Linked DNA regions of Homo sapiens: regions 1, 2, 4, 5 and 6 are each linked to region 3. Evidence: fine-mapped expression QTL. A gene starts in region 3. Each other region holds a variant in brackets. All regions are shown on one strand. Distances are from middle to middle. Region 1 overlaps INTS4 (integrator complex subunit 4). Region 2 overlaps INTS4 (integrator complex subunit 4). Region 3 holds the start of INTS4 (integrator complex subunit 4). Region 4 overlaps RSF1 (remodeling and spacing factor 1). Region 5 overlaps INTS4 (integrator complex subunit 4). Region 6 overlaps INTS4 (integrator complex subunit 4).

The links. PIP is the estimated chance that this variant, and not a neighbour inherited with it, causes the effect. A credible set is the group of variants that fine-mapping cannot tell apart.
Region 1: its variant is the best candidate, but not a certain one, in a credible set for the expression of INTS4 in monocytes (Quach 2016, PIP 0.81).
Region 2: its variant is the best candidate, but not a certain one, in a credible set for the expression of INTS4 in monocytes (BLUEPRINT, PIP 0.70).
Region 4: its variant is the best candidate, but not a certain one, in a credible set for the expression of INTS4 in prefrontal cortex (BrainSeq, PIP 0.71).
Region 5: its variant is the best candidate, but not a certain one, in a credible set for the expression of INTS4 in whole blood (TOPMed, PIP 0.51).
Region 6: its variant is the best candidate, but not a certain one, in a credible set for the expression of INTS4 in whole blood (TOPMed, PIP 0.79).

The regions. Positions count from the first base shown.
Region 1 is chr11:77,946,066-77,951,217 of GRCh38, reverse strand. All of the region lies in intron 8 of INTS4 (integrator complex subunit 4), which reads left to right. Among named protein-coding and RNA genes, the nearest start is that of INTS4, 46 kb to the left of the region's middle. The variant CTTT/T (reference allele first, on the strand shown) is at 2,537.
Region 2 is chr11:77,954,887-77,960,038 of GRCh38, reverse strand. It overlaps INTS4 (integrator complex subunit 4), which reads left to right. Exons shown (of 23, transcript NM_033547.4): 7 at 1,205-1,293; 8 at 3,977-4,097. Among named protein-coding and RNA genes, the nearest start is that of INTS4, 37 kb to the left of the region's middle. The variant G/AG (reference allele first, on the strand shown) is at 2,376.
Region 3 is chr11:77,991,871-77,997,022 of GRCh38, reverse strand. It overlaps INTS4 (integrator complex subunit 4), which reads left to right and starts at 2,355. Exons shown (of 23, transcript NM_033547.4): 1 at 2,355-2,433. The coding sequence starts at 2,380. RefSeq lists a silencer at 1,971-2,040 and an enhancer at 2,241-2,440.
Region 4 is chr11:77,726,652-77,731,803 of GRCh38, reverse strand. All of the region lies in intron 4 of RSF1 (remodeling and spacing factor 1), which reads left to right. Among named protein-coding and RNA genes, the nearest start is that of RSF1-IT1, 10 kb to the left of the region's middle. The variant A/TTA (reference allele first, on the strand shown) is at 2,938.
Region 5 is chr11:77,916,029-77,921,180 of GRCh38, reverse strand. It overlaps INTS4 (integrator complex subunit 4), which reads left to right. Exons shown (of 23, transcript NM_033547.4): 15 at 2,203-2,360. Among named protein-coding and RNA genes, the nearest start is that of INTS4, 76 kb to the left of the region's middle. The variant C/A (reference allele first, on the strand shown) is at 2,675.
Region 6 is chr11:77,921,833-77,926,984 of GRCh38, reverse strand. It overlaps INTS4 (integrator complex subunit 4), which reads left to right. Exons shown (of 23, transcript NM_033547.4): 12 at 2,093-2,235; 13 at 4,514-4,629. Among named protein-coding and RNA genes, the nearest start is that of INTS4, 70 kb to the left of the region's middle. The variant T/G (reference allele first, on the strand shown) is at 2,372.

The DNA.
Region 1 (5,152 bases), 46 kb after region 3:
TAAATCACGCTGCTATAAAGACACAAGCACATGTATGTTTATTGTGGCACTATTCACAATAGCAAAGACTTGGAACCAAGCCAGATGTCCAACAATGACAGACTGGATTAAGAAAATGTGGCACATATACACCATGGAATCCTATGCAGCCATAAAAAATGATGAGTTCATGTCCTTTGTAGGGACATGGATGAAGCTGGAAACCATCATTCTCAGCAAACTATCACAAGGACAAAAAATCCAAACACCGCCTGTTCTCACTCATAGGTGGGAATTGAACAATGAGAACACATGGACACAGGAAGGGGAACATCACACACCAGGGCCTGTTGTGGGGTGGGGGGAGGGGGGAGGGATAGCATTAGGAGATATACCTAATGTTAAATGACCAGTTGATGGGTACAGCACACCAACATGGCATATGTGTACATATGTAACTAACCTGCACGTTGTGCACATGTACCCTAAAACTTAAAGTATAATAAAACAAACAAACAAAAATTGACACATTGTATATATGGGGCACAAGTTGATGTTTTGATACACATCTATGTTGAATATTAATCCAATCAGGATAGTTAGTATAGTTATCACCTCATACATTTATCATTTCTTTGTCATGAACTTTCAACAGCCTCTCTTGCAGCTATAATATTGTATATTTTGTAATATACAATATTTTACTGTTAATCATAGTCACCTTTATGTGCAGTTGAACACCAGAATTTATTTCTCTTCATTGTGACTTTGTATCTGTTGTCCAGTCTCTTCCCATTCTCTCCTACTCCCTCCCCTCCCCAGTGTCTGCTAACCACTGTTATACTCTCTGCCTCTATGATATCAATTTTTTTTTTAATACTTTAAGTTCTGGGATACATGTGCAGAACATGCAGGTTTGTGACATAGGTATACATGTGCCATGGTAGTTTGCTGCACCCGTCAACCTATCATCTACATTAGGTATTTCTCCTAATGCTGTCCCTCCCCCAGCCCCCACCCTCTGACAGTCCCTGGTGTGTGATGTTTCCCTCCTTGTGTCCATGTGTTCACATTGTTCAACTCTCACTTATGAGTGAGAACATGCGGTATTTGGTTTTCTGTTCTTGTGTTAGTTTGCTGAGAATGATGGTTTCCAGCTTCATCCATGTCCCTGCACAGAACATGAACTCATCCTTTTTTGTGGCTGCATGGTATTCCATGGTGTATATGCGCCACATTTTCTTTGTCCAGTCTATCATTGATGGGCCTTTGGGTTGGTTCTAAGTCTTTACTGTTGTGAACAGTGCTGCAATAAACATACGTGTGCATGTGTTTTTATAGTAGAATGATTTATAATCCTTTGGGTATATACCCAGTAATGGGATTGCTGGGTCAAATGGTATTTCTGGTTCTAGATCCTTGAGGAATCGCCATGCTGTCTTCCACAATGGCTGAACTAATTTACACTCCCACCAACAGTGTGAAAGTGTTCCTGTTTCTCCACATCCTCTCCAGCACCTGTTGTTTTCTGACTTTTTAATGATTGCCATTCTAACTGGTGTGAGATGGTATCTCATTGTGGTTTTGATTTGCATTTCTCTAATGACCAGTGATGATGAGCTTTCTTTCATATGTTTGTTGGTCACATAAATGTCTTCTTTTGAGAAGTGTCTGTTCATATCCTTCACCCACTTTTTGATGGTTTTTTTTTTTTTTTTTGTAAATTTGTTTAAGTTCTTTGTAGATTCTGGATATTAGCTCTTTGGCAGATGGATAGATTGCAAAAATTTTCTCCCATTCTGTAGGTTGCTTGTTCACTCTGATGATAGTTTCTTTTGCTGTGCAGAAGCTCTTTAGTTTAATTAGATCCCATTTCTCAATTTTGGCTTCGTTGCCATTGCTTTTGGTGTTTTAGTCATGAAGTCTTTGCCCATGCCTATGTCCTGAATGGTATTGCCTAGGTTTTCTTCTAGGGTTTTTATGGTTTTAGGTCTTATGTTTAAGTCTTAGATCATGCAATATTTGCCTTTCCATGTCTGGCTTATTTCACTTTACATGATGTCCTCCAGGTTTATCGATGTGGCAAATGACAAGATTTTATTCTTTTTTTATTTTCTTCTTTAAGTCAGGGTCTTGCTCTGTTGCCTAGGCTGGAGTGCGGTTCCGCGATTGCACAGTCATAGCTCACAGCAACCTCAAACTCCTGGGGACTCCAGCCTGGATAACAGCGAAACTGTCGCTAAAAAAAACTAAAAACCAGATTGTTCTTCTTTTTTGATGTAGTCATTTATTGCTGTACACTTATCTCTTAGAACTGCTTTTGTTGCATACCGTAGGTTTTGGTATATGTTTTAATTCTTGCTTGTGAAGTGTGTTTCTTCTAGGCAATGTATACTTAGATTTTGTGTTTTAATCTATTCAACCAATGTATACCTTTTTTTTTTTTTCTTTCTTTGAGACAGGGTGTCTGTCTCTCTGTTGCCCAGGCTGTAGTGTACCTTTTAATTGAAGAACTTAATCCATTTATATTCAAGATTTTTTCCTTCTTCTTCTTCTT[CTTT/T]TTTTTTTTTGTTTTTTTTTTTTTGTTTCTTTGAGACAGGGTCTCACTCCGTCACCTAGGCTGGAATGCACTGGTGTGATCTCAACTCACTGCAACCTTCACCTCCTGGGTTCAAGTGGTTCTCGTGCCCCAACCTCCCCAGTACCGGGATTACAGGCATGTGCCACCATGCCCAACTAATTTTTTTGCATTTTTATTAGAGACGGGTTTTGACATGTTGGCCATGCTGGTCTCAAACTCCTGGCCTCAAGTGATTCGCCTGCCTTGGCCTCCCAAGGTGCTGGGATTACAGGCATAAGCCACCGCGCCCAGCTATATTCAAGATTGTTATTGATAGATAAGATCTTATTCCTGCCATTTTGTTAATTACCAAAAAGTAATTTTGGAGATCCTTTGTTCTTGTCTTCCTTTCTTGTTGTTTACCTCTGATTTAGTGGTTTTCTGTGGGGCCACGCTTTATTTTCATTCTCTTTCTTGTTTGTGTATCTGCTGTAACTTTTTTCTACATAGTTACTACAGAGTCTTCAGTTAGGCTGGTGTGGTGGCTCTTGCCTATTATCCCAGCACTTTGGGAGGCTGAGGCAGGCAGATCACTTGAGCTCATGAGTTTGAGACCAGCCTGGGCAACATAGTGAGACCTCGTTTCTACTAAATAAAGAAAAAAGAAATCAGCTGGGCATGGTGGCACACATCTGTAGTCTCAGCTACCCAGGAGGCTGAGGTGGGAGGATCACTTGAGCCTGGAAGATTGAGGCTGCAGTGAGCCGTGATCAGGCCACTATGCTCTAGCATGGGCATCAGAGTAAGACTGTCTCAAGGGGGAAAAAAAAAGTCTTGCAGTTACAATAGAATGTTTTAAGCTGATAGCAACTCAACTTTGGTTACATAAAAGGACCCTAGATTTTTTCCCTCCCCACTTCAATTTATATTTTTGTTGCCTTAATTTTCTTCTTCATCTGTTATGTGTTCCTTAGCTACTATTTGTAGCTGTTGTAGTTTTTGACCATTTTGAATTTAACCTTCATACTAGCAGATTGAAAATTTTATATGACATATTGTATCACTGGGGTTTGATCTGTTTGATTTATGAGTTTGCCTTTACTGGTGAGTTTTATACTTTTGTGTGTTTTTATGATAGTGATTATTGTCCTTTTGTTTCTAGCTGTAGCATTCAATACCTTGAATATATTAATTCTATCCCATTCTCTCTTGGTCTGCGAGGTTTCTGCTGAGAAATCTGTTGATAGTAATGGAGATTCTCTTGACAATTTTGTCTTGCAGCTTTGAAAGTCTTACTCTTTGACTTTCGATAGTTTGATTATAATGTACCTTGGAGAGGATCTTTTTGGGTTGAATGTAATTGTGAACCTTTGAACTTCCTGAATCTGGATGTCCGTATTTCTCCCACTACTTGGCAAGTTTTCAGCTATCATTTCATCAAATGGGTTTTCTGTGCCTTTCTCTTTCTCTTCTCCATCAGGCAATCTTCAATGCAAGTATTTGTTTGCCTGTTGATGTCCCATATGTTCCAAGGCTTTCTTTTTTATTCTTACTTGTTTTTTTTTTTTCCTCTTAATGGGTTATTTCGAAAGACCTGTCTTCAAGGTCAGAAATTCTTTCTTCTGCTTGATCCTAGTCTATTGTTGAAGCTCTCAATTGTATACTATTTTTATTTTTTTCATTAAATTCTTCAGTTCCAAGATTTCTGTTTGGTTCTTTTTTATGATATTGATTTCTGTTGAATTTCTCATTCGGATCATGAATGTTTTCCTGATTTCATTTAATTGTTTGTCTGTATTCTCTTGTATCTTACTGAGTTTCCTTTAGATCACTATTTTGAATTCCTTTTCAGGCATTTTGTAAGTGTCCTTTTCTTTAATGTCTGTCATTGGAGACTTTTTTCCTTTTTTTTTTTTTTGAGACAGGGTCTTGCTCTGTCACCCAGGCCGAAGTGCAGTGGCATGATCTCAGCTCACTGCAACCTTCTCCTCCTGGGTTTAAGTGATCCTCCCACCTCAGCCTGCTGAGTAGCTAGGACTACAGGCGCATGCCACCACACCCGACTAATTTTTTTATATTTTGTAGAGACGGGTTTTGCCATGTTGCCCAGAATGGTCTTGAACTCCTGAGTTCATGCTTTCTGGCTGTCTTGGCCTCCCGAAGTGCTGGGATTACAGATGTGAGCCACTGCCCCCAGCCAGGAGACTTACTGTATTCCTTTGAGGGTGTCATGTTTCCTTGATTTTCATTTATCGTGTGTAAGATACTGGATGTTGATATCTGTGCATTTAGTAGAGTAGTTGCTCTTTTCAATTTTATTGAGTAGCTAGTATATAGTAACAGTCTTTTTCTGTAGATGGTTTTAGGGTATTAGTTGGGTATGGTGTGTTGCCTTTGGTTCTGGGTGGACTCAGTGGGTGGTGTAATAATCCTTGTCAGCTTCAGCTGTAATCTTCAGCTATAATCCTAGTCATTGATGTTTGCAATTGCCTCAGTTGCCTAGGCTGTGGGAGTTTGTGATGGCAATGCTGTAGATGAGGGTACTGAGCTGATTTCTGGCCAAGACATGTACAGGCTAAAATGGCTGCCAGGCTGTCTATCTGGTTTTCCAGG
Region 2 (5,152 bases), 37 kb after region 3:
GATCACTGTTTGGTTGGGCCGTACATGAACTCATTTCTGGGCACCACACTTCACAAACTAGAGTGTGTCTGGAGAAGGGTGACCAAGACCGTAGGATCATATAAAAAAAAAGTCACATGCATGTAGTAGTAGTGGTAAAGAAAGGTATAATGAAGTTGTGGAAAAGCTGATTGATGGCCAACCAAAAGGCCTTATGAGGCTGTATTTCTCTTGGAGGATAATTGACTGAATCTGGTAAAAGGAATCTAAATCCACGTTCAGAGATTAGGTTTTGTTAGCCTGCCAAGAGTGGTTTTATCTCTCATGGGAAGAAGATAATTAGCCAAGCCCCATCACAGATGTGTAAACCAAGTTTATTCCTCTATTGAATGAAGTAGAATGGGTCCAGAATGCTTGTGGTGGTGTGACCATCGCCTTCTTTTTCTATAAGAAAACTATGTGGGAAGCCAAATAATTCAAAGGAAACTTGGATCGTAAGGACTCAGAGGAAGGGAAGTTAGTTGGCTGATTCAGATGTTTGGTGGCGTAAGACTCTGTTAGTAATCTAGGCAAGCAGTAATGACAGCATCAAGGGAGTGAGGATGGACTGATAGTGTAGAATTTAAGATATAAGGTAGAATTTGCTTCCTTAATGAGTTCAGGTTTGCGTGTGTTGAGTATAAAAGTTTGATGGGACATCCATGAAGAGAATTCCAGCCATAAGTAGTTATAAAGGCCTGGAGATCAGGAGAAATCAGAGCTAAGGGTAGGTATTCAAAGCCATCAGTATTTAGGGAGTATGGGGCTACCCAGAAAGAGTGAGTGGATTGAAACAGAGGCCAGTGATTTCAGACCAAGGTAAACAGAAGTGTGTGCTTTGATTTTTACAGGGGGAGGAAAAAGCCATAATTGGTGTTTGAACCTGTGAGAACAGTACTGTTTGCTCCCAGCATGCTTTGCTGGGTTTGATCTGTTCTAGATGTTTTTATGCTGTCAGTCTGTGATTCTCCTTTCAGACATGGGGTAGGGTGCATAGTCAGAATACAGCCAGAGCAGCTGACAGAGGTCAAGATTCATTTTTAAGCAAAGATTCCAGAAGTTAAAACCACACACAAGTGTTTTACTGGGCATCCTTATCCAACCACCCTATCTTCACTTTGAAAATAGTTTAAACATTGCCTGAGAGGACACAGAACTAATAGACTTTTGGAATTCTTCTTTGCAGGCCTGTAAATTACTCTCTGATGACTATGAACAAGTGCGCAGTGCTGCAGTCCAGCTTATCTGGGTCGTCAGTCAGCTCTATCCTGAAAGGTCAGTGTGGGTGTAAGCTGGCTTTTGTTGATTGTGAAGCCGTTTTCCTCTCCTCTCACCATGCAAAAAGCCCACTTCTAGAAAAGAAATGTTGGTTACATTTTTGGAAGGCAATGGGGAATAAGGGAAAAGCACAGGCCCTGAAAATCAGATTGCCTGGTCCTCATTTTTCATCTCTGATAGGAACTTTCTGTACACTTTGGAAAGATACTTCACTTCTTTTATCCTAACCTTCTCATCCATAAGTGAAGAAATTGGAATATCTTTCTTAAATGGTTTTCAGTACTTTACAAAAAAATCTTTAAAATTGTTTGGGACCCATTTTAGTTTGGCTTGTGCCAAATGCCAGATAAAGATACCAGATGAGTTTGAGAATAATGATCTCTTATGTAGTTTTCCTGGTTAAAAATATTTTCACAGCAATTAAATTAACCACAGTGATTCTTTGAGGAGGTAGGCAATATTATTTATTATATTTTGTAAGATAGAATATTATATTTATAAATGTTTATTTATCTTTTATTTATAAATATTTATAGAATATTTTATTTTTCCTTGTATAGGAAAAAGGGGTGTTTTTTCCTGTTCATTAAACTGCCAGAATTTGAAAACCAGAATGAATTAATAAACCTGTAGGAGTAGGCTCCATTTGTAGTGTTTTAGGACTTAGACACATACAAAGAAAAGGGCTAACTGGAAATTGTGTCTTCTTTTAGGACTGGATTGATAAGTAAGTTTTATATTGATTTATTCTGAGATTTACTGTATTTATAGAAGTTCAGTCTGGACACGGTGGTGCCTGTAATCCCAGCACTTTCGGAGGCCGAGGTGGGCGGATCACCTCAGGTCAGGAGTTCAAGACCAGCTTGGTCAACATGGTGAAACCTCGTCTCTACTAAAAATACAAAAATTAGCCGGACATGGTGGCACACGCCTGTAATCCCAGCTACTAGGGAGGCTGAGGCAGGAGAATCGCTTGAACCTGGGAAGTGGAGATTGTGGTGAGCTGAGATCACACCACTGCACTCCAGCCTGGGTCACAGAGCAAGACACTTTCTCTCAAAAAAAAAAAAAAAAAAAAA[G/AG]AAGTTCAGTTACAGAAGATAATAAACTTAAGGATATGAAATATTCGGTGGAAGCTAGTTTTTGATAATTTCATAAATCTTTGAACCTTTGGTGGGTTACGTACTTTTTTTTTTAAGGCAGGGTCTTGCTCTGTGGCCCAGGCTGCAGTGCAGTGATGTGATCTCGGCTTACTACAACCTCCAACTCCTGGGTTGAAGCAATTCTCATGCCTGAGCCTCCCAAGTAGCTGGAATTACAGTCGCGCACCACCACACCCAGCTCATTTTTTGTACTTTTAGTAGAGATGAGGTTTTGCCATGTTGGGTAGGCTGGTCTTGAACCCCTGGCTTCAGGTAATCTGCCCGCCTCAGTATCTCAGTGTGCTGGGATTACACGCCTGGCTGAACCTTTGGTGGGTTACACACTTTTATTCAATACATTGAAAATTTGCACCTGGTTGCAGTGACTCAGCCCTGTAATCCTAGCACTTTGGGAGGCTGAGGCGGGTGGATTGCTTGATCTCAGGAGTTTGAGATCAGCCTGGGCAACATGGTGAACCATCTCTACTAAAAATATAAAAAATTAGCTGGGTGTGGTGGCATGCTTTTGTAGTCCCGGCTACTCAGGAGGGTGAACTGGGAGGATCACCTGAGCCCAGGAAGTTGACACTGTGGTGAGCAGTGCTCACGCCACTGCACTCCAGCCTGGGCGACAGAAGTGAGACCCTGTCTCAAAAAAAAGCATAATTTGCAATGCAACTGAAAGAGTTGGTTTGTACTCCCAGAGTGATTTGTTTATTCCAAACTGTATTTAATCATTCTAGGATTTGAACTATTCAATTATCATTTTTGTGTGTGTCAGTCTTCATTGACTGTTCTCAGTTTATTGAGCCTGCAGCCTTACTTACTTATGTATTTATTTGTTTATTATTATTATTATTATTATTATTATTATTATTATTATTATTATTATTTTTTGAGATGGAGTCTCGCTCTGTTGCCCAGGCTGGAGTGTAGTGGCACTATCTTGGATCACTGCAACCTCCACATTCCAGGTTCAAGCGATTCTCCTGCCTCAGCCTCCTGAGTAGCTGGAATTGCAGACATGTGTCACCATGCCTGGCTAATTTTTATATTTTTAGTAGAGAGGAGGTTTCGCCATGTTGGCCAGGCTGGTCTCGAACTCTTGACCTCAAGTTATCCACCTGCCTCAGCCTCCCAAAGTGCTGGCATTACAGGCGTGAGCCATTGCGCCCAGACTGTATTTATTTTTCAAGACAGGGTCTTGCTGTGTCATCCAGGCTGGAGTGCCGTGGTGTGATCTCAGCTCACTGCAACCTTCACCTCCAGAGCTAAAGTAATCTTCCCACTTCAGCCTCCCAAGTAGCTGGGACTATCAGCGCATGCCACCACGCCTAGCTAATTTTTGTATTTTTTTTGTAGAGATGAGGTTTTGCCATATTGCTCAGGTTGGTCTTGAACTCTTGGGCTCAAGCAATCTACCTGCCTGGGCCTCCCAAAGTGTTGGGATTATAGATGTGAGCCACTGTGCCTGGCCTGAGCCTGCAGACTTAGGTTCATGTTTTGTTCTAAGTGATTTCATTTCTTTTCTTTTAATTTAGCATTGTCCCAATTCCTTCTTCTAATGAAGAAATACGCTTAGTTGATGATGCGTTTGGCAAAATTTGTCACATGGTCAGTGATGGCTCTTGGGTGGTTCGTGTTCAGGCAGCAAAACTGTTGGTAAGTTATACTTTTTATGTATGTATGTATGCATGTATATATTTATTTTCTTTTCTGTAGAAATGAGGACTGTGTGGCCCAGGTTGGTCTCAAACTCTTGGCCTCAAGCAGTCCTCCTGCCTCAGCCTCCCAAAAGACTGGGATTATAGGCTGGGTGCGGTGACTCACACCTGTAATTCCAGCACTTTGGGAGGCCAAGGCAGGCGGATCACGAGGTCAGGAGATTGAGACCATCCTGGCCAACATGGTGAAATCCCGTCTCTACTAAAAATACAAAAATTAGCTGGGCATGGTGGCGCACGCCTGTAATCCCAGCTACTCGGGAGGCTGAGGCAGGAGAATCGCTTGAACCTGGGAGGCAGAAGTTGCAGTGAGCCAAGATCACGCTGCTGCACTCCAGCCTGGCGACAAGGGGGAGACTCTCATCTCAAAAAAAAAAAAAAAAGGCTGGGATTATAGATGTGAGCCACTACACCCAGCCAATAATCCTTTTTTTAAATGAGCACATTTCTCATTAAGTTTTTACAGACATTTTGAGAAACTACAGATGGGGCAGTGTGACCTGAATTTAAAACCCCAGAATTTATTTTCCTTTTTCTTTTCTTGAGACAGGGTCTTCCTCTGTTGCTCAGGCAGGAGTGCAATAGTGCAGTCACGGCTCACTGCAGCCTTGACCTGCCGGGCTCAAGCAATCCTTCCACCTCAGCCTCCTGAGTAGCTGGGACTACAGGCATGTGCCACCCTGCCTAGCTAATTTGTATTTTTTGTAGACATGGGGTCTTGCTTTGTGCCCAGGCTGGTCTTGAATTCCTAGGCTCAAGTGATCCTTCTGCCTTGGCCTCCCAAATTGTTGGGATTACAGGTTTAAGCCACTACTCCCAGCCCCAGAATTTCTTAATATAGAAAGAAATAGTTCACTCTCCTGTAGAGAAATAGCCTTTTAGAACTAGAAAGAATCTTAAAACATAATTCTATTAACCCTACTAGGAATTAAGATAGCCGGAGCCTAGAGAAAAAGGAAAACAATAAAAAAAAAGTTTTTCCCATTTATTAAG
Region 3 (5,152 bases):
GCGAGGTAAGATACAAATCTATGTCTAAATAAGTTAAAAAGAGCTGTTTCTGTAAGTATACATAACAAATCTAAGCAATTAGAAACCATTGTATTTAATTTCAGCATTTCTTTTCTTAACATAATAAATAAAATATTGATTTTACAATTGCTGGCAGCTTAGATTTGATAGAATATGATAATGGTAATAATAGCAGCTAAGCTTTATTAAAGGTACTGTTTGCTAAATGTTTTTCATTTCCCTTGACATATTTGTATATCTTATCTCGGCGGTCTGGGATGCCTTTGTTTCTGGAAAAACTCATTCTTTTAAAGCTGCATTAGAAATAGTTTCCTTTTTTTTTCTTTTTTTTTTCTTGAGACAGAGTCTCGCTCTGTTGCTCAGGCTGGAGTACAGAGGCCCGATCTCGGCGCACTGCAGCCGCTGCCACCTGGGTTCAAACGATTCTCCTGCTTCAGCCTCCCGTGTAGCTAGGATTACAGTCACCCACCCCGACGCCCGGCTAGTTTTTGTATTTTTAGGAGAGACGGGGTTTCACCATGTTGGCCAGGCTGGTCTCGAACTCCCGACCTCAGGTGATCCGCCTGCCTCGGCCTCCCAAAGTGTTGGGATTATAGGGGTGAGCCACCGCGCCCAGCCTTTTTTTTTTTTTTTTTTTTTTTTGGAGACAGGGTCTCACTCCGTTGCCCAGGCTGGAGTGCAGTGGCTGGATCTCGGCTCACTGCAACCTCCACATCCCAGGCCCAAGCGATTTTCCCGCCTCAGCCTCCAGAGTAGCTGGGACTTCAGGCGTGGGCCACCATCATGCCCAGCTAAATTTTGTATTTTTAAAGTAGATTTCGCCATGTTGCCCAGGCTGGTCTCAAAACTTCTGAACTAGGTGATCTGCCCGCCTCGGCCTCTCAAAGTGCTGGGATTATAGGCGTGAGCCACCACTCCCAGTTTCCTCTAATTTTAGGAAAGCCTTCCCTGAGGCACTCTGAAGAAATTAGGTCTGTTTGAACCACATTCATTCCCGTTACCCAGCACATTTCAGTTGCACTGTCACCATCAGTTTGGGTGTCTGTCTTCTCAGATTGTAGGACCTTGAGGATAAATACTATCTTTTGTTTATTTTTGGGTCCTCTGTATCCACCTCAGCCTCCTGCTTTTTTTTTTTTAAACTATCCCACATTAATTCTTTTTTTTTTTTTTTGATAACGGAGTCTCGCTCAGTCGCCCAGGCTGGAGTGCAGTGGCGCGATCTCGGCTCACTGCAACCTCCGCTTCCCATGTTCAAGTGATTCTTCTGCCTCAACCTCCCAAGAAACTGGGATTACAGGCGTGTGCCACCATGCCCCGACTAATTTTTGTATTTTTAGTAGAGACGGGGTTTCCCCATGTTGGCCAGGCTGGTCTCGAACTCCTGACCTCAAGTGATCCATCCGCCTCGGCCTGCCAAAGTATTGGGATTACAGGCATGAGCCACCGCGCCTGGCCCACATTCTTTTGAAAGACCAAAATAATGAACAGCTAGTTTCATGTAGGTTGTAAAACTTGACCTTGGATTTACTGACACTAACATGTGCACTACACCTTACAGTCCGTAAAATGTTCCTGCATTATTTCACTCCATTGTCACATCTTTGTCAGGTTAGTTATTATAAATGCATTTGTAGTTGAGCCATTTGCTCAAGAACCAGAGCTGTAGTCTGTAGCTTTGTTGCTTTATCCTTGGTCTCAGAAGTCTTCTACTGTACTATAGCTATCAGAGCAGGGATTGATGCCTTAAAGGATGGCAGCTTTTGCAAAACTGGAATAAGGAAGTATGGAAAGGCACCCCAAAACAAGAGAGGTGGCGCACAGCTTGAACAAAGGCAGTGCTCAGGAAACCTACAAACAGCATCGTGTACAGCAAAGGATGATGGGAAAGTCAGCCGAGCCTCTGAGTTTTTTCACGAGTCGTAAACCCCTTACAGAGCTCCGGGTTTTGCCTCTAGCTCTGGAGCACCCCGCCTCTGCCCTTTAACCTGTACTTCCTCCCTCCCTCCCTTCGCGCCGCGCCGCGCTAGTCTCTTAGCCACTCCGAGGCCACCAACCAGCCTCCCAAAGCTCCCATTGGGTTGCCCACCCTTTCAGTCTCAGCTCCTCCCGCCAGAGGCCCCGCCTCCCACAAGCGAAGCTCTTATTTCCGTTCTTCCGGCGTAGGCCGCCAAATCAGTCCGTACAGTGGCGAGGCAGTCGAGCAACAGGAAGCGGTCGCTCTTTCCCCAAATCCCACTGCCTTGTGGGATCTCGGCAAGTCATCCACCCACCCCCCGCGCCTACGCAAGTTTTCCGGATCCGTCCACCCCCGCCTCCCTCCTAGTGTACGGAAGCTGAGAGGGCCCGCGGGTAGGCATGGCGGCGCACCTTAAGAAGCGGGTTTATGAGGAATTCACGAAAGTGGTTCAGGTAAGCTCTGGCGGGAAAGATCCAGAACCGATCCGGACCAGGGTAGATTATCCAAATCCCAGGCACTTTGCCGGAACAGAAGAGGCTCCATACGCCCGTGTTAAGTGCTGACTTGTTGATAATCTCTGATATTGCAAGTTAGTGGGCGTGTTAGTTTGCAGCCGCTGTTGTCATTAATATGTGAAGTCTGACAGGATTTTAAAAAAATTATTAGGAGAAACAGTGTTTTTTAATTTACGAAACTGTCTTATCCGTTATTTCATTTTATTCTCTCACACAACTTTGCTCCATCGCGTTACATTAGCATCCTCGTTTTCCAGATGTGGACATTGAGCCTTCCGGAGGGGTACGAGGATACAGCCAGTTAGCAGCAGAGCCCCTTCTAGCCTCCCCGCACCCCCGTTCCAAAAAAAAACCTCCCAGGGACCAGTTGGAATATACACAAGGTTCTAAGGGGCTGAAAGAAGGGTCTATAGAATTCCTTCAGGCGCAGTCTAAGCAGGCGGGGGTCACAGACTTCATAGGGGAAGAGCTCTCTATTGGTAGAACAGCTCACCTAGGAAGGAGGGCAGTACCTTCCTCACCATGAAGTTGTGACAGGTGGGCAGAGTCCCTGTCGGGAGTCAGTGATGCTCCATGTGTCTCCACGTAGATGTTGCTAGGGTTGATCCTAAATCATCCTGATGTCCTATTTCTCAGATATTAATGTGTATACAAATTACCTGGGGACGTTGTTCAAATGTCGATTCTATTTGATAAGTCAAGCAGAGGAGGTGAGGCAAGATTCTGCATTCCTGACATGCCCCCAAATTTACACCAGTGCATTGGTTGCATTCTTAGATCCTTAGACTTGTAGAGTGGCAAGGCTTAGAGCATCCAGCAGGATACTGATCCTTAAACATTACATGGATTCATTCATCCAGCATTAAAATATGTTAATACAAATACAAAATATGTCAATACATAATATAAAATTTACAATTTTAACAATTTTAAGTATAAAGTTCAGTGGCATTAAGAACATTAGCACTGTTGCACAATGTGATTTCCTCTCTTCCCAACATTCTGTTGTTCCCATTTCCCAAGACTGCTCAGCCCTCTTCCACCCATCCTCACATGACCAGATATGCCATGTGTTCTTGTGTTTGCATATCTCAAAACTCTTGCACTGGTTGTCTCTTCTCACAGAATACATGCCATTCTTCCCTTTCTTTTTGTTCTCCACCCAGTGGACTTAACATTTGTGCTTCAAGACCCAAATGAAACCTCAGCGAGAGCTTAGTCTCTTCTTCACCTGTTTCTGTAGCATTCTGTGGTACTAATCTATTTGTACTTTTTGTTCAGTGCTGCTGTCATTACCGGTGTACCTATCTTCCCACCAGTCGGAGGTCCTTGATGGCAGAGCTAATGCCTGGCTCATCTCCGTGTCCTGGAGATGGACAATAGGGCCTGGCTCACTAAAGTGTTATTGGTGGTTGAATGACAGTTGATATTGCTTGTCCTCTCCCTTATATAATACTTAGGGAAAAAATTCCTAGCTTTTGACCTAACTACAGCTTCGATAAGACTGAAAACTGAGTTTGAGAGGACTAGGATAGAAATGGCTAAGAATTTTAAGGGAAGAGCTAATTTCTTCACTTAATTTTTCATCAGTTGTTAACATAAAGTGATTAAATGAGATCTTAGTGCTTCTGTTCTTTTTTCTCCGCTGAAAAGATGAGGAGGGAGAACTGATATGTGCCTAGCACTTACATATACGTATAATAAAGTTATGTTTAATAACAGATTTATCGACTAGCTCTGTGATAATAAAGTATTGGTATGCCCTCCTATAGAAGAAGGCCTTCCCCAGCTAGTAAGTTGTAATTGAATACAAATTCCTCTGACTCCAAAGTCCTTATTCTTTTTATCATGTCATACTGTGTTCTTGTCTAGAATAATTCTACTCTCTTTTCTATAGAAATGTGAATTTGTAAGGAGGTGATTGCTCAGTACATAAAAACGCACCATTAGGTGGTAAGGAAATTTATTTTATTTTATTATTATTTTTTAACAGAGACAGGATTTCACCATGTTGCCCAGGCTGGTCTCGAACTCCTGGGCTCAAGGGATCCTCCTGCCTCAGCCTCCCAAAGTGCTAGGATTTCAGGTGTAAGCCACTACGCCCATCGGATATTTGTTTCCTTTTCTTCTGTTTTGAGATGGAGTTTCGCTCTTTTCGCCCAAACTGGTGTGCAGTTGCGCAATCCTAGCTCACTGCAACTTCTGCCTCCTGGGTTCACGCAATCCTCAGCCTCCTGCATAGCTGGGACTGCAGGCATACACCACCACCCCCAGCTAATTTTTGTGTTTTTAGTAGAGATGGGGTTTTGCCATGTTGGCCAGGCTGGTCTTGAACTCCTGGCCTCAAGTGATCCGCCTGCCTAAGCCTCTCAAAGTGCTGGGATTACAGGCATGAGCCACCATGCCATGTCTGATATTTGTTTTCTAATAAAGAATGGACTTTGGGAGACTGAAGCAGAGGGATCACTTGAGGCCAGAAGTTCGAAACCAGCCTGGGTAACATGGCAAAACCTGTCTCTACTAGAAATACAAAAATTAGCCATGTGTGGTGGCACACACCTGTAATTCCAGCTAGTTGGGAGTCAGGGAGGTGAATCGCTTGAACGTAGTAGGTGGAGGTGGCACACACCTATAATCCCAGCATGTTGGGTGTCAG
Region 4 (5,152 bases), 270 kb after region 3:
GTTCCCAAACTCCAGTTCTTCTGTGCATTCACAGGTTCAGCACCACATGGAAGCTGCCAAAGCTTGGGACTTGCACCCTCTGAAGCCACAGCCTGAGCTCTGCATTGGCAGCTTTCAGCCATGACTGGAGTGGCTGAGATGCAGGGCACCAAGTCCCTAGGCTGCACACAGCACATGGACCCTGGGCCTGATCCATGAAACCATGTTTTCCTCCTAGGCCTCCAGGCCTGTGATAGGAGGGGCTGCCGTGAAGACCTCTGACATGCCTGGAGACATTTTCCCCATTGTCTCAGGGATAACATTTGGCTTCTTGTTTCTTATGCAAATTTCTGAAGCCAGCTTGAATTTCTCCTCAGAAAATGGGATTTTCTTTTCTGTCACATTGCCAGGCTGCAAATTTTCTAAACTTTTATACTCTGCTTCCCTTATAAAACTGAATGACTTTAACAGCACTCAGGTCACCTCTTGAATGCTTTGCTGCTTAGAAATTTCTTCCTCCACATACCCTAAATCATCTCCTTCATGTTCAAAGTTCCACAAATCTCTAGGGCAGGGGAAAAGGCCACCAGTCTCTGCTAAAACGTAACAAAACTCACCCTTACTCCTGTTGGGGAACAAGTTCCTCATCTCATTCTGAGACTACCTCAGCCTGGGCCTTATTGTTCATATTGCTGTCAGCATTTTTGTCAAAACCATTCAACAAGTCTCTAGGAAGTTCCAAACTTTCCCACATTTTCATATCTTCTTCTGAGCCCTCCAAACTCTTCCAACCTCTGCCTTTTACCCATTTTTTAAGCCACTTCCACATTTTCAGGTACCTTTTCAGCAACGCCCCACTCCTGATACCAATTTACTATATTAGTCCGTTTTCATGCTGCTGATAAAGACAAGACTTGGCAATTTACAAAAGAAAGAGGTTAATTGGACTCACAGTTCCACATGGCTGGGGAGGCATCAAAATCATGGCAGAAGGCAAGGAGGAGCAAGTCATGTCTTACATCAATGGCGGCAGGAAAAGAAAGCTTGTGCAGGAAACTCCTGTTTTCAAAACCATCAGATCTCGTGAGACTCATTCACTATCACGAGAACAGAACAGGAAAGACACATCCCATAATTCAATCACCTCCCACTGGGTTCCTCCCACAACACGTGGGAATTGTGGGAGTTACAATTCAAGATGAGATTTGGGTGGAGACACAGCCAAACTGTATCATCTATGGTTATCATAATAAAAACTGTGATTCTTCTTGCTTTGGTGGGGAAAAGGAATTGAGTAGGAAAGGACAGGAGGGAATTTTTGTGGGAATAGTGATATTCCTTATGTTGATTATGGTGTAGATTACACAATGTATGCATTTGTCAGAACTGATGAACTGAGTGCTTAAAATATGTTTATTTTACAGTATGTGAATTATACCTCGTTAAAAATATTTTCAAAATTGATAATGGTTTGACAGTCATTTTCAGAAAGTTGAATTTGAAATAGTATATACAGTTTTCATGTACCCATAATTACAAACTGTATGAATGCATTTCTAAACCATATATATATATCTAAAACCTGCTAATATAGCACAGTGATTAAGAAGGGCTCTAAAGTCAGACTTCAAAATTCAGTCTTGCTAAATTGTACTAACTTACCTTAGGCAAATTACCATACCTCTCTATGTGTCCTCAGTTTCCTCAGTCATAAAATGGGAATAATTTAATACCTACTTAATTGGGTTATATTGGAATTATATGAACTAATTAATATAAAACTCTTGGAATAATTAATGCTTGGAACATAGTGCTCATTCACTAATGTTAACATCTTAGATTAATAGTACTGCTATTGATATTACTAATTAATGCCTCTTCAGTTTTCTTGGCCTCCACAATTTTTTTTTTTTTTTTTTTTTTTTTTTTGCCTACTGAATAATTTGGCATTTATACCAAAAAGTTGGAATATTGTTTCTCAACTCTGGAATCATATATTTAAAATATTTACAAAAGGCTTGTTATATTTATACTGTTTTATGCTCTGTAGATGTGAAGACCTGGTCCCATTTGTTAAGGAGTTTTTGTTATGGGAGAAAGGTACAGGGAGATATTACATAATACAGAGTCACAAAGTCTGTGATGGAGATTATCAAGGGTGCTGTGGAAGAACCAGATACTTGGCTCATACTTGGCAGAAGATAATGCCTATACTTGACTTTTTTTTTTTTGTGGGGTTGGGGTTCAGGGGCGTCTGTTTATTTTTGTTATTTTTTTTTTCTTCATTGCTTCTGAAATGTTTAGCACCTACCACTAATTCAAACTCTGAACAACTCCTAGGCTGGGAGAAATCATATTTCACAATAATAATGGTTAGGATGACGTGTTCCATTTCATTGAAGTCTAGATTAACTTAAGGTACATATAGGAAAATATAACAGTTTAGAATCTGGTTAAGTCAAAGTCAGTAACCAGTCTGCCCAAAACTAAACTTTGAACCTTTCTACCCTAATCTGAACGTCCCATCTCTGTTAATAGCAGCTACATCCTTTCCTTGGCTCAACCCTATGGAATGTGTCAATAGAATTTCTTTAGGAATGAAAAAGATAAGCAGAGATGTAAATATAATAACCAAGTGTTAGTGTTTGGTTATTAATGATGAGAGAAATTTAGCAAATAGAGACCTTATACCAGATTCCATCAGGTGCTTCTTCAGGAACAGAGTGGGACTACAGAGAGTGCTTTTATACCAAGTGTAAACCCTAAGGCCCAAAACCTTGGAGCACATCCGTAACTGCTTTTTCTCTCACTCCACATCTACCCTAACAGCAAATCCAATCAGCTCTTCATGCATGATTGTATCTAGAATTTGATCACTTCTCCTTCATAGCTGCATTCTTGTCCAAGCCACCATCTCTTTTTTGTAAAATATATATAATTGAGCAGTTTTTTTTTTTT[A/TTA]CAAGTTATGCATCTGGTACCACTATCTAACACCGGGATATTTTTCTCACCCTAAAAAGAAAACCCTGTACCCATTAGCAGTTATTCTTCATTCTCCCTTTTCCTAGCCCTTAACAACCACCAATCTTTCTGTGTCTATAATTTGTCTATTCTCAACATTTTGTATACATAGAATTATATAATAAGTGACTTTCTGTGTGTGGCCTCTTTCTTTCCCTTTCCTTTCCTTCCCTTCCCTTCTCCCGTCTCCCTTCTCCCTTCCCTTCCCTTCCCTTTTTCCTTCCCTTCCCTTTCCTCTTCCTTTTCCCCTTCCCTTTCCTCTTCCCTTTCCCCTTTCCTTTCCCCTTTCCTTTCCTTTCCTTTCCTGTTTCTCCATGTTGGTCAGGCTGGTCTCCATCTCCCGACCTCAGGTGATCTGCCTGCCTCGCCCTCCAAAGTGCTGGGATTACAGGTGTGAGCCACCACGCCCAGCCATTTGTGGCCACTTTCAAGTAGAGTAATCTTTACAAAGTTTATCCGTGTAATATAAATCAGAACTTTATTCCTTTTTATGGCTGAGTAGTATTTCCATATGTAGATATACTAGATTTTGTTTATTCATTCTATACTTGTCTTTGAGAGAGTAATTGGAATTAGCCATGGGGAACACATTCCAGGCTAAGAGAGCAGAAGTGCAGTCAGTCACCCGATATCCTAAGAAAGCCTGGTATTTTGGAGGGATATATCTGATTTAACATACCTGAAAGAAGAAATGGTTTGGAGAACAGAGAACAAGTGAGGGAGGGGTAGCAAAACAACTGGATTGTTGTTAGGGTCCATAGTCTAAAATATTCTGTACATAGTGTTAAGAAATTTGGATGTGATTTGAGGGAATTCATAAAAATTTCCTCTGACTAACTCAGATTTAGGATTTTTTAAATTGTTCAAAAATAGGAAAAACCCAAAGATGGGTAGTTTTGTTTTCATATAATAACGACTACCTTAGGCTTGTGTTTAAACACATTAAACAGATTAAAAGCCTTTTAGGGAGTTGTTCTTTAATAAATTTTAATGCTAAATTCCCTTTTTGCTTAAAGTAGTGGAAGTAGGCTGGGTGCAGTGGCTCACGCTTGTAATCCCAACAGTTTGGGAGGCCAAGGCAGGCAGATCACTTGAGGTCAGGAGTTCGAGACTAGCCTGACCAACATGGTGAAACCTCATCTCTACTAAAATTACAAAAGAAATTAGCCAGGCGTGGTGATGGGTGCCTGTAATCCCAGCTACTCGGGAGTCTGAGGCAGGAAAATCGCTTGAACCCAGGAGGAGGAGGTTGCAGTGAGCCAAGATCCTGCCATTGCACTCCAGCCTGGGTGACAAGAGTGAAACTCCATCTCAAAAAAAAAAAAAAAAAAAAGTAGTGGAAGTAATTGAAATAGATTTTCCTAGCAATATTAGCTCTCTTACGTTTTGAAGCTTTTTAAAATTGTTATGGTGCATAACTTCAGTATACTCTTCAGTTCCCACCATGACTTTCAGAAATAAATAGATCGAGCCATTCGTTGCATATGGAATTCTCTTTTTCCTTTTTTTAACATATGGAATTCTCAATGGAATATGAGTAGTAATAAAGCATAGATCCTTAAGTTAGAAGCAGGTTGTAATGAAATTAGGGGACTGGATCTTTGCCAAAAATAAATAAAGTCTCTGAGTCTTAATTTTCCTTCCTGTAAAATGGAGGCAGGACCAGACAAGACTTTGAGAAAACATCTAGTCTTACCTTTTGATATTAGATAATTAAAATTCTAGACTGGTTATTATATATGCTCATATGATATGTATGAACATGTATGTTTTATTCTCATGTATAATTGATTGTCATTTTAATTTCTGATTTTTATCAGTGGCAATTTTACTGCTTTATTTAGAAGACCAATTTAGTAATACTCAAGAGAATCTGTTCTTTTATTTTATAAATAAGAAAGCTGAGGCCTAATGAGGATATACAACTTGTCCAGGGGCTCTTTGGAATGCAGAGTTCCTACTCTAAAGCAGTAGAATCTAGCTGGCATGGAATTGGAAAGGGAAAGGAGGGTAGGAGCCATATGTGACATGACAGATAAGAAAACGAGTCATTTCATCTTAACAGTTTTCACTTTGAATCAGGGGTATTTACATCGCACATTGAGAACACAGATGGGAGGATCTTGGTGCTAATTAATAATCTAGTGGCATATCT
Region 5 (5,152 bases), 76 kb after region 3:
GGGATTACAGGTGAGCACCACTGTGTGCAGCTTGTTTTTGGCTTTTTATTTTTTGTGCTTTGTGGTTATTAAATAGTAGAAAGCAGTCCATATATTCTCTGAAAACTTGTTTGTTCATTCTCTTTCTCTCTTGGGCTCTTTGCCATTGTTTTATACTTTTGCTTTTGTATCCTTTACCTTTTAAGATGATTCATTTTTTTTGGTGTCCCTGGGTTATTGATATTAGGCAAGAAGAAAGGAACCTGGAACAATAGATTATATTTTAGATCAAGAATTTAAATTGTTATATATATATATTTATTTATTTATTTTTATTATTATTACTTTTTGAGACGGAGTCTTGCTCTGTCGCCCAGGCTGAAGTGCAGTGGCACGATCTCGGCTCACTGCAAGCTCCACCTCCCAGGTTCACTCCATTCTCCTGCCTCAGCCTCCCGAGTAGCTGGGACTACAGGCGCCTGCCACCACGCCCGGCTAATTTTTTGTATTTTTAGTAGAGACAGGGTTTCACCGTGTTAGCCAGGATGGTCTTGATCTCCTGACCTCGTGATCTGCCTGCCTCGGCCTCCCAAAGTGCTGGGATTACAGGCATGAGCCACCACACCCAGCCTAAATTGTTATATTTTAACTATTACATATAGCTATGATTCTCCACAAGTGCTTATTTTTTAAAAATAAAACCTTTACTATTTTTAAAACCTAGAGTTATATAGAAGAAAATTTAAAAATAGATCATAATAATAATAGCAAACACTTCGTGAATGCTGTGGCTCAGGTACTCTTCCAATCTCTCTATTTGCATTAACTCATCCCTGCTTGGGTGACTCCAAATCACTTTATTTGGAGTAATATGTGTTTATTTAGAGGAACATTTATATATATGTGTGTATATATATATATGTGTATATATATGTGTATATATGTATATATGTATATATATGTATATATGTATGTATATGTGTATATATATGTGTGTATATATATGTATATATATGTGTATATGTATATGTATATATATGTGTATATATATATATGGTTAGAAAATTTAAACTTTATAGAAAATACAAAATGAGGCCAGGTGCGGTGGCTCATACCTGTAATCTAAGCATTTTGGGAGGCCAAGGCGGGTGGATCATCTGAGGTCAGGAGTTCATGACCAGCCTGGCCAACATGGTGAAACCTCATCTCTACTAAAAATACAAAAATTAACTGGGCATGGTGGTGGGCACCTGTAGTCCTAGCTACTCGGGAAGCTGTGGCAGGAGAATTGCTTGAACCCAGGAGGCAGAGGTTGCAATGAGCCAAGATTGCGCCACTGCACTCCCGCCTGGGCGACAGAGCGAGACTCCATCTCAAAAAAAACAAAAGACAAGTAGATACAAAATGAAAAGTGAAATACTCTTTGCTCTCTCCTCCCCATCCATCTTAAAAGGTAACCACTTTTAACAGTAAGAATAAGTATATCTGTAGGGCTAGGCCAAAAATAAAAAAAAATTATTCTCATGAAAAAATTATATGCTATATAAATTTATTTGGGAATAAATCATTATTCTTCCTTCAAGTGAAAGATAAGATAGTGTTTTAAAGATAAATGTGGCCGGGTGCAGTGGCTCACGCCTGTAATCCCAGCACTCTGGGTGGCCGAGGCAGGCAGATCACCTGTGGTCAGGAGTTCGAGACCAGCCTGACCAACATGGAGAAACCCTGTCTCTACTAAAAATACAAAATTAGCTGGGTGTGGGGGCGGCCACCTCTAATCCCAGCTACTCAGGAGGCTGAGGCAAGAGAATCGCTTGAACCTGGGAGGCGGAGGTTGCAGTGAGCCGAGATGGTACCATTGCACTCTGGGCAACAAGAGTGAAACTCTGTCTAAAAAAAAAAATGTAACAACAGTTCAATTTTTAGTCTCCTTCCTAGGGTTGGCCCATTTATTTCAGTTAGCAATAGAAAATATTATATCTTTCTGTTTTTCTCCTGGCAGCTGTGGCTGTATTGGGTAGACCATGTTTGCATTTTGTCTCTTTCTCTTTAACTCCCAATGTTGCTGAGGAAGGGGAGAAATGTTATTTATAGAATATCCTAGCCTTTTTTCCCCTTTGTTTTGTTTAGCTCACGTTTTTAATGTGCTTTTATGTGTTTGTGTGTGTGTTACCAAAAGCTGAGCCACCAAACTTAATGACTCTGTAATCCCACTCTGCTTAGTTACCAGGTAGAAAACTGGTGTCATCAGCTGTTTCTCCCAGCATCATACCTCAAGAGGATCCTTCCCAGCAGTTCCTGCAGCAGAGCCTTGAAAGAGTGTATAGTCTTCAGCACTTGGACCCTCAGGGAGCCCAGGAGCTGCTGGAATTCACCATCAGGTAGGGTAATCATCCCTTCATCTGACAGAGTTAGTGCTGTTACACTCAGCTTGACTGTTCTGAATTCTGGTGTTGGTTACTAGGCTTGATATTCTGACTTTATTGGTCTACATTCACACACGGTTTTATGGTCTGTTTATATTTGGATTAGATTGTGGTTTGAACATATTTTTTAAAAGAGCTCTTTATATTCATGACTCGATTGATGATTAGTACACAACAGAAATAGTTACAAAGAACCTGTTTTTAGTTTTTTAATTTTATATATTAGGATGAGTGACCAAAATGCAAAGTAACAGTGGCTAAAACAGGAG[C/A]AAAGTTTAATTCTTTCTCATAGGCAGGACAGGGCTGAGATGACCATCAGGGATCTAGGCTTGCTCTTTTTTTTTTTTTTTTTTTTTTTTGAGACAGGGTCTCACCCTGTCACCCAGGCTGGAGTGCAGTGGCATAATATCAGCTCACTGCAAGTGATTCTCCCACTTCAGCCTCCCAAGTAGCTGGGACCACAGGCATATGCCACCACACCTGGCTAATTTTGGCTTTTTTTTTTTTGTAGAGTCGAGGTTTCACCATGGTGGCCAGGCTGGTCTCAAACTCCTGAGCTCAAGTGATCCTCCCGCCTCGGCCTCCCAAAGTGCTGGAATTACAGGCGTGAGCCACTGTGCCCGGCCTAGGCTCATTCTTTCTTCTGTCTTCATCTTCTGCATCAAGCAGCCTCTGCTTAACAATTCAGATCTAACTGTGCCCCCTGTATTCCATCCTGTGGGGAAAAGGAAACAGGAAGAGAAAGGTATCATCTCCACCCTGTGGTTTGTTTAAAGACACTTCCCAAAAGTTGTACACTCTAATTTTACTTGCATTCCATTGACTAGAACTTAAGTCACATGGCCATCTCTCACTTCAAGGAGCGAGGACATGCAGTCTTTATTCTGGGTGACTAATGCCTGGTTTACATGCGATGACTCTAATACTCAGGAAGAATGGGAGAAAGATATTGGGGAACAACCAAAAGGCTCTGCCAGACCTTCCTCAAAATGGCCTGAATGATATGAAAAAAATTTAAACTCATTTGCTTTTAGCAAAAGCAGTATTGTTTGCTCTTAAAAGATTAAAAAATTATATCTTTGAGGAGCAAACAGTACTGCTTTTGCTAAAAGCAAATGAGTTTAAATTCTTTATTGTTTGCTCTTAAAAGAGAAAAATATTATATCGGCCAGGTGCAGTGGCTCATGCCTGTAATCCCAGCACTTTGGGAGACTGAGGCGGGAGGATCACTTGAGGCTAGGAGTTCAAGACCAGCCCCGTTGAGTGAAACCCCATCTCTACTAAAAATACAAAAATTAGCCAGGTGTGGTGGCACGCGCCTGTAATCCCAGCTACTTGGGAGATTGAGGCACAAGGATCGCTTGAACTCGGGAGGCAGAGCTTGCAGTGAGCCAGGATTGCGCCACTGCACTCCAGTCTGGGCAACAGAGTGAGACTCCATCTCAAAAAAAAAAAAGAAAGAAGGAAAAATATTATATTATATAATTTGTATCTTAGTTGAGATCTCTTTTGATCTGCCCGGAAGAGTATTTGGTACCAGCCACATTCAATTAATAATTTTTAGTGGATGATTTCATTCCATACACTAAGAAACAAGCTCTGTGCTAGATACAGATCAGCTAGCTAGGATTCTGCCCTTAGAGAGCCCATGTAGACAAGATGGATATAGACAAAGACTTATGATGGTGGATAACAGCGCTTTGTACTTTGTTCATGCTTTCCTGTCCATTATTGCATCTTAACATGTTATAAAGCCAGCCAACTGAACCATCCTCCAAGTTATGTTTTCCCATTATATTAGGTCATTCATTCACTTAGCAGCATTAACTATTTGTTTATTCTAATAAGCCAGTTGCTGAGGGTAGAGAGAAATAAGAAATGACATTTGTTCTTAAGGTACTCACTGTTTATTACAGGACCCAGAAATCATCAATTTGATAAATGATACAGTGAAGAGAAGCATAGATGCTGTGGAAAAACAGATGAAAGTCCCCGACCCATCACGGTAGTGGTGGTGAGGGATGCTTCACAAAGGAGAAGATCCTTTAGCTAGTATGAAATGATAACTGAGCATGTCAGTTTCGTAGTCCATGTGCAGAAGACAGTTCCAACTTCAGCAGACATTAGAAGAGCTGGGAGACCTGAGGGAGAACAGCCTCCCAGAACTGCAGTGGTGTAGTATAGTGATTGAGTGAATGGAGCTTTGAGGGCAGACTCATTTTGTTTAACGTCTGAGCTAATACAGTCATGCACTGAATAACAACGTTGTGGTGGTCCCATGATTATATTTTTACTGTACCTTTTTGATGTTTAGATATACAGATATTTACCATTGTTTACCATATTTACCAATATTTACCATTGTAACCAGTGTTACAGTTGCCTACAGTCTTTAGTACAGTAACATGCTGTACAGATTTGTAGCCTAGGAGCAACAGACTATACCATATAGCCTAGGTGTGTAGTAGGCTATACCATTTAGATTTGTGTAAATATACTCTATGATGTTTGTGAGACAAAATCACATAACAGTGTATGTCTCAGAATGTATCTCCATCGTTAAACAACACATGACTTGTAGTTGTTTGATCTTAGTCAAGTTTATTGCTCAGGGTTCATTTGCAGAAAACAAAAGAGGCTTTTAACTAATTTAAGCAGAAAGAAATTTATTACAGAATGTTACATGGCTCACAGAGTTGTTGGGAAGGCTAAAGAAACAGACTAGGTGGAATATCCAGGAATGATTT
Region 6 (5,152 bases), 70 kb after region 3:
GTGGGCTAAATGCCACCACTCTATTCCCATAGCACCCTGTGTATACTGCTGTAGCATTTTTCAGTAATTCTCTATTTCATAAGACTGTGAGCTCCTCAAGGTGTCTTGACTTTTCTTTTCTTTTCCTTTCCTTTCCTTTTTCCTTTCCTTTCCTTTCCTTTTTTTTTTTTTTTGAGGCTGAGTCTCGCTCTGTTCCCCAGGGTGGAGTGCGGTGGTACGATCTTGGCTTACTGCAACCTTCACCTCCTGGGTTCAAGCAATTCTCCTGCCTCAGTCTCCCGAGCAGCTGGGATTACAGGCACGCACCACAATACTAATTTTTGTATATATTTTTTTTTTTAGTAGAGATCGTGTTTCACCATATTGGCCAGGCTGGTCTCGAACTCCTGACCTCAAGTGATCCACCCACCTTGGCCTCCCAAAGTGCTGGGATTATGGTGTGAGCCACCGTGCCCGGCTGACTCTTCATTTTTTTATTACCAATGTCTTGCAGCAGTGTCTGGCACAATTAGGTGCTCGGTAAGTGTTTGCTGAGTAGCTGAGCTATGTTCCAAGCTATGTTTTGATGTACAGAATTGTTCACAGGTATGCTTATTTGTGAGTACTTATGTATATAACTCACAAAGAATCCTTGCCTTTTAATTCTTTTCAGGAGTTCAGACCAATATAAACTTACAGTAGACTATTCTTCCACCCTGCTGTGTACTTCTCCCTTATATTTTCTGTGTCACTGGGCTTCATTGCTTTGAGCCTTACCTTGCTGACCCTTCCAGCTGGAATTTGCCTTTTTTTTTTCCTGCTATGTCAAGATCCTACCCTGCCTAGAAAAATTCACTTCTTTATTCAACAAGCACTGTCTATGTATTAGAAATATAGGGATATCAAAACAGGCAGGATCCCTGCTGTCATAAAACTTATATTCTAAAGAGAGGTGGAGTAAACAAACAAAATGATTTCAGATGGTGATAAATGTTTTGCAGAAGATAAACAGTATGATTGAGGAATGGGGAATTTCTCTGTAATTTGAGTGGTTAGTAAAGACTTTCTGAGGAGATGATGTTCAAGTTGAGTCTTGAATGATAAACAGAAGCTAGCTATGTGAAGACTGGGAGAATAACTTCAGGTAGAGGCAACAGCTAGTGGAAAGGCTCTAAAACACAAGTGAGCTTTGTTGTGTTTGCAGAATAGAGAGAAAGCCAGTAGGAGTGAACCACAGTGAGAAAGTAGAAATGTGGCATGAGATGAAGTCTGAGAGGGGATTAGGGACAGGTGGAGAGCCTTGTAGGCCATTTTAAGATGTCTGGATTTTATTCTAACATTATGGAAAACTGTTGCAGAATTTTATGGATAGGAGTGACATTTCGATTTGCCTCTCTTTTAATATTTCTCATTCTTGAAATCTTGAAATTCACTTCAGATAGATTGACTTTTTCCCTCACTCCTCCATTTAACACATACAGGTATACCTCTCTTTATTGGGCTTTGCAGATATTGTGTTTTTTTAATAAATTGAGAGATTGCGGCAACCATGCATTGAGCAAGTCTATCGGTGCCATTTTTCCAATAGCATGTGCTCACTTTATGTCTGTGTCACATTTTGGTAATTCTTGCAATATTTCAAACTTTTTCATTATTACATCTGTTACAGTGATCTGTGATCAGTGATCTTTGATGTTACTGTTGTAATTGTTTTGGGATGCCACAAACTGTGCCTGTATAAGATGGCAAACTTAATAAGTATGTGTGTTCTGAGTGTTCTGCTAACTGGCCATTCCCAGCCTCTCTCTTAGCCTTTCTTCTTAGCCTGTCCTTTTTCCTAGTTGCAAAAAGGCTCTTGTACCTTCAGCATCATGATTGAGTTCCAGATAGGATGGAAAAGGAAGGTTAAAGAACAAAGGGGATAAAGCTACTGCCTCTGGTCCTTTATCAATAAAATGAAAGATATTTCAGGAATTTCAGCTAAAAAACTTCCACATACTTTGTTACATGGCCACCCTAGATGGGAAGGTGGCTGGGTAGAAGGGGATGGTAGATAGAGGCTGAGTCTGCTAACCAACAGTAACTACTGTTATTATTACTTTTTTTTTAAAAGGATTCATCCAGAGATATTCGAGAGGCTCTTCATGAACTCTTATGCTGTACTAATGTTTCAACCAAAGAAGGGATTCATCTTGCATTGGTGGAGCTGCTGAAAAATTTAACCAAGTACCCTACTGATAGGGACTCCATATGGAAGTAATGACTTTTTTGCCCATTTACTCACTGAGTCCCATAATGTGGTAAATGTATAATGCTGACATTTGTTCCGTCCTTATAGATTGAGGATAGTACGGCCCTGAATTTTGCCTTTACTTTAGAAACCTGATTCAAC[T/G]TAACCGAACTCTCAGGAATCTGATTCCTAAGCTGAGTATCACATTTTAGATTACTTACTAATTTGTGCATCTATCCACCTAGCAAATATTATGTGCCTGCTGTGTGCTGACTATGCACCAACCCTTGTGGTAGCTGTTACAAGTATAGAAATAAATTAATTAGATTTCCTCTTTCTCCTATATAGTGTTTTGTTTTGTTACTTTTTTTTTTTGAGACGGAGTCTCGCTCTGTCACTCTGACTAGAATGCAGTGGCGTGATCTCAGCTCACTGCAACTTCTGCCTCCTGGGTTCAAGCGATTCTCCTGCCTCAGCCTCTCGAGTAACTGGGATTATAGGTTGCATGCCACCATACCCCAACTAATTTTTGTTTTTTTTTTTAGTAGAGATGGGGTTTTACCATGTTGGTTAGGCTGGTCTTGAACTCCTGACCTCAGGTGATCCCCCTGCCCCGGCCTCCCAAAGTGCTGGGATTACAGGCATGAGCCACTGTGCCTGGCCTTATTATTTTTTATTCATTAAGTTCTGGTTTAGAAGGTGCACTAAATTGGCTGGGTGCAGTGGCTCACGCCTATAATCCCAGCACTTTGGGAGGCTGGGGCGGGTGGATCACCTGAGGTCAGGAGTTCAAGACCACCCTGGCCAACATGGTGAAACCTCATCTCTACTAAAAATGCAAAAATCTGCCGGGCCTAGTGGCACACGCCTGTAATCCCAGATACTTGGGAGGCGAAGGCAGGAGAATTGCTTGAACCCTGGAAGCAGAGGTTGCAGTGAGCCGAGATTGTGCCACTGCATGCCAGCCTGGGCAGCAGAGCAAGACTCAGTCTCAAAAAAAAAAAAAAAACCATAAACAATAATAAAAATATATAATTACCTTGCTTTTATAGTTCCTTATAGTTTATAAAGGGCCCTCATGTAGTTATAATAGCTAACATTGAGTTCTTACTATGTGACAGACACTTTGCTAAGTACTTTATGTTAGTTATTTAATGCGTATAGCAACTCTATGAAGTAATGACTTTTAATCTCATTTTGTAGATGAAAAAATTTACTTGCATAAGGCTACTTAGTTTCAGACAGATCTGTGATTTCAGGACTTCACCCAGGATATCAATCAGAATGTTTTTGCCCACAAATAAAAAAGACAATCTGATTAAAAATATCTTAGCCAATAAGTCTGTTTTTTCATAACAAGTGGTCAGAAGGTTGGTTTCAGGATTCGTCATTCAACAGGTTACCAGGGCTCTCTTTGGTTTCTCTGCAGTTCTCTTGGCTTTTTTTTTTTTTTTTTTTTTGAGACAGAGTCTCTCTTTATCGCCAGGGTGGAGTGCATTGGCATAATATTGGCTCACTGAACCTCCGCCTTCCAGGTTCAAGTGATTCTCCTGCCTCAGCCTCCCGAGTAGCTGGGACTACAGGCCCGTGCCACCATGCCCAGCTAATTTTTGTATTTTTAGCAGAGATGGGGTTTCACCATGTTGGCCAGGATGGTCTTGATCTCTTGACCTCCTGATCCAGCCACTTCGGCCTCGCAAAGTGTTGGGATTATAGGCGTGAGCCACCACACCCGGCCGGCTTTCTTCTCATAGTTGTAAGATGGCTGCCTCATAAGATAATATCTCAAGACAGAAAGGAAGGGTCATTCCCTTTCATGCATTGCTCTTTTGATTTGCAAAAACATCCCTGAGAAGCTCCCCAGCCAGCATACTCTCGTGCTCCATTGTCTAGAACTGGCTTACTTGCCCACCAGCAAACCAGTCACTGGAAAATGGGAATGGGATTGCCATGATGGGTTTAGACCAATAGTGGTTCAGCTCTTGGGCTGGACCTGCCTTTTCCGAGCACTTTGCTGCCTGCCTGATACCTGAGTAAAATCAGGGCTCTCTCAGGAAGAAAGATGGGGGAAATGGCTCTTGGTTAAATAACCAGTTCTTTTATCTTTATAATAACCAGTTTTTTTAGATGAATTAACCGAGTTCCAGAATAACTGGGTGACTTATCTGAAGTCATAGAGTTAGCAAAAGTATATGGTTGAGAATTTCCAATTCCAGTTCAGGTTTTCTGATTCCAGTTCCTAGTACTTTTCAAAGGACTAACTTTACTAATTTGTTGATGTGCATTCTTATTTGTTTGTTTCAGGTGCTTGAAGTTTCTGGGAAGTCGGCATCCAACCCTGGTGCTTCCCTTGGTGCCAGAGCTTCTGAGCACCCACCCATTTTTTGACACAGCTGAACCAGACATGGATGATCCAGCTTGTATCCTCTGTGCTTAGGATGGGCCCTGATGTGTTGGCAGGCAGCTTTGGCATCTCCTTCTGCAGTATAGCTAGGGTAGTCTGAATTTTCTTTTCTTTGCTTTTCTTTCTTTTTTTTTTTTTTTTTTGAAGACAGAGTCTCATTCTGTCACCCAGGCTGGAGTGCAGTGGCCTGATCTCGGCTCACTGAAACCTCTGCCTCCCGGGTTCAAACAATTCTCCTGCCTCAGTCTCCTGAGTAGCTGGGATTATAGGCGCCCGCTACCACACCCAGCTAATTTTTGTATTTTTAGTAGAGATGAGGTATCACCATGTTGGCTAGGCTGGTCTCAAATTCCTAACCTGTTGCTTGGGCTGGAGTGCAGTGGCACCACCCCAGCTCACTGCAACCTCCGCCTCCCGGATTCAAATGATTCTCCTGGCTCAGCCTCCCAAGTAGCTGGGATTACAGGTGCCTGCCACCACTCCCGGCTAATTTTTGTATTTTTAGTAGAGACGGGGTTTTACCTTGTTGCCCAGGCTGG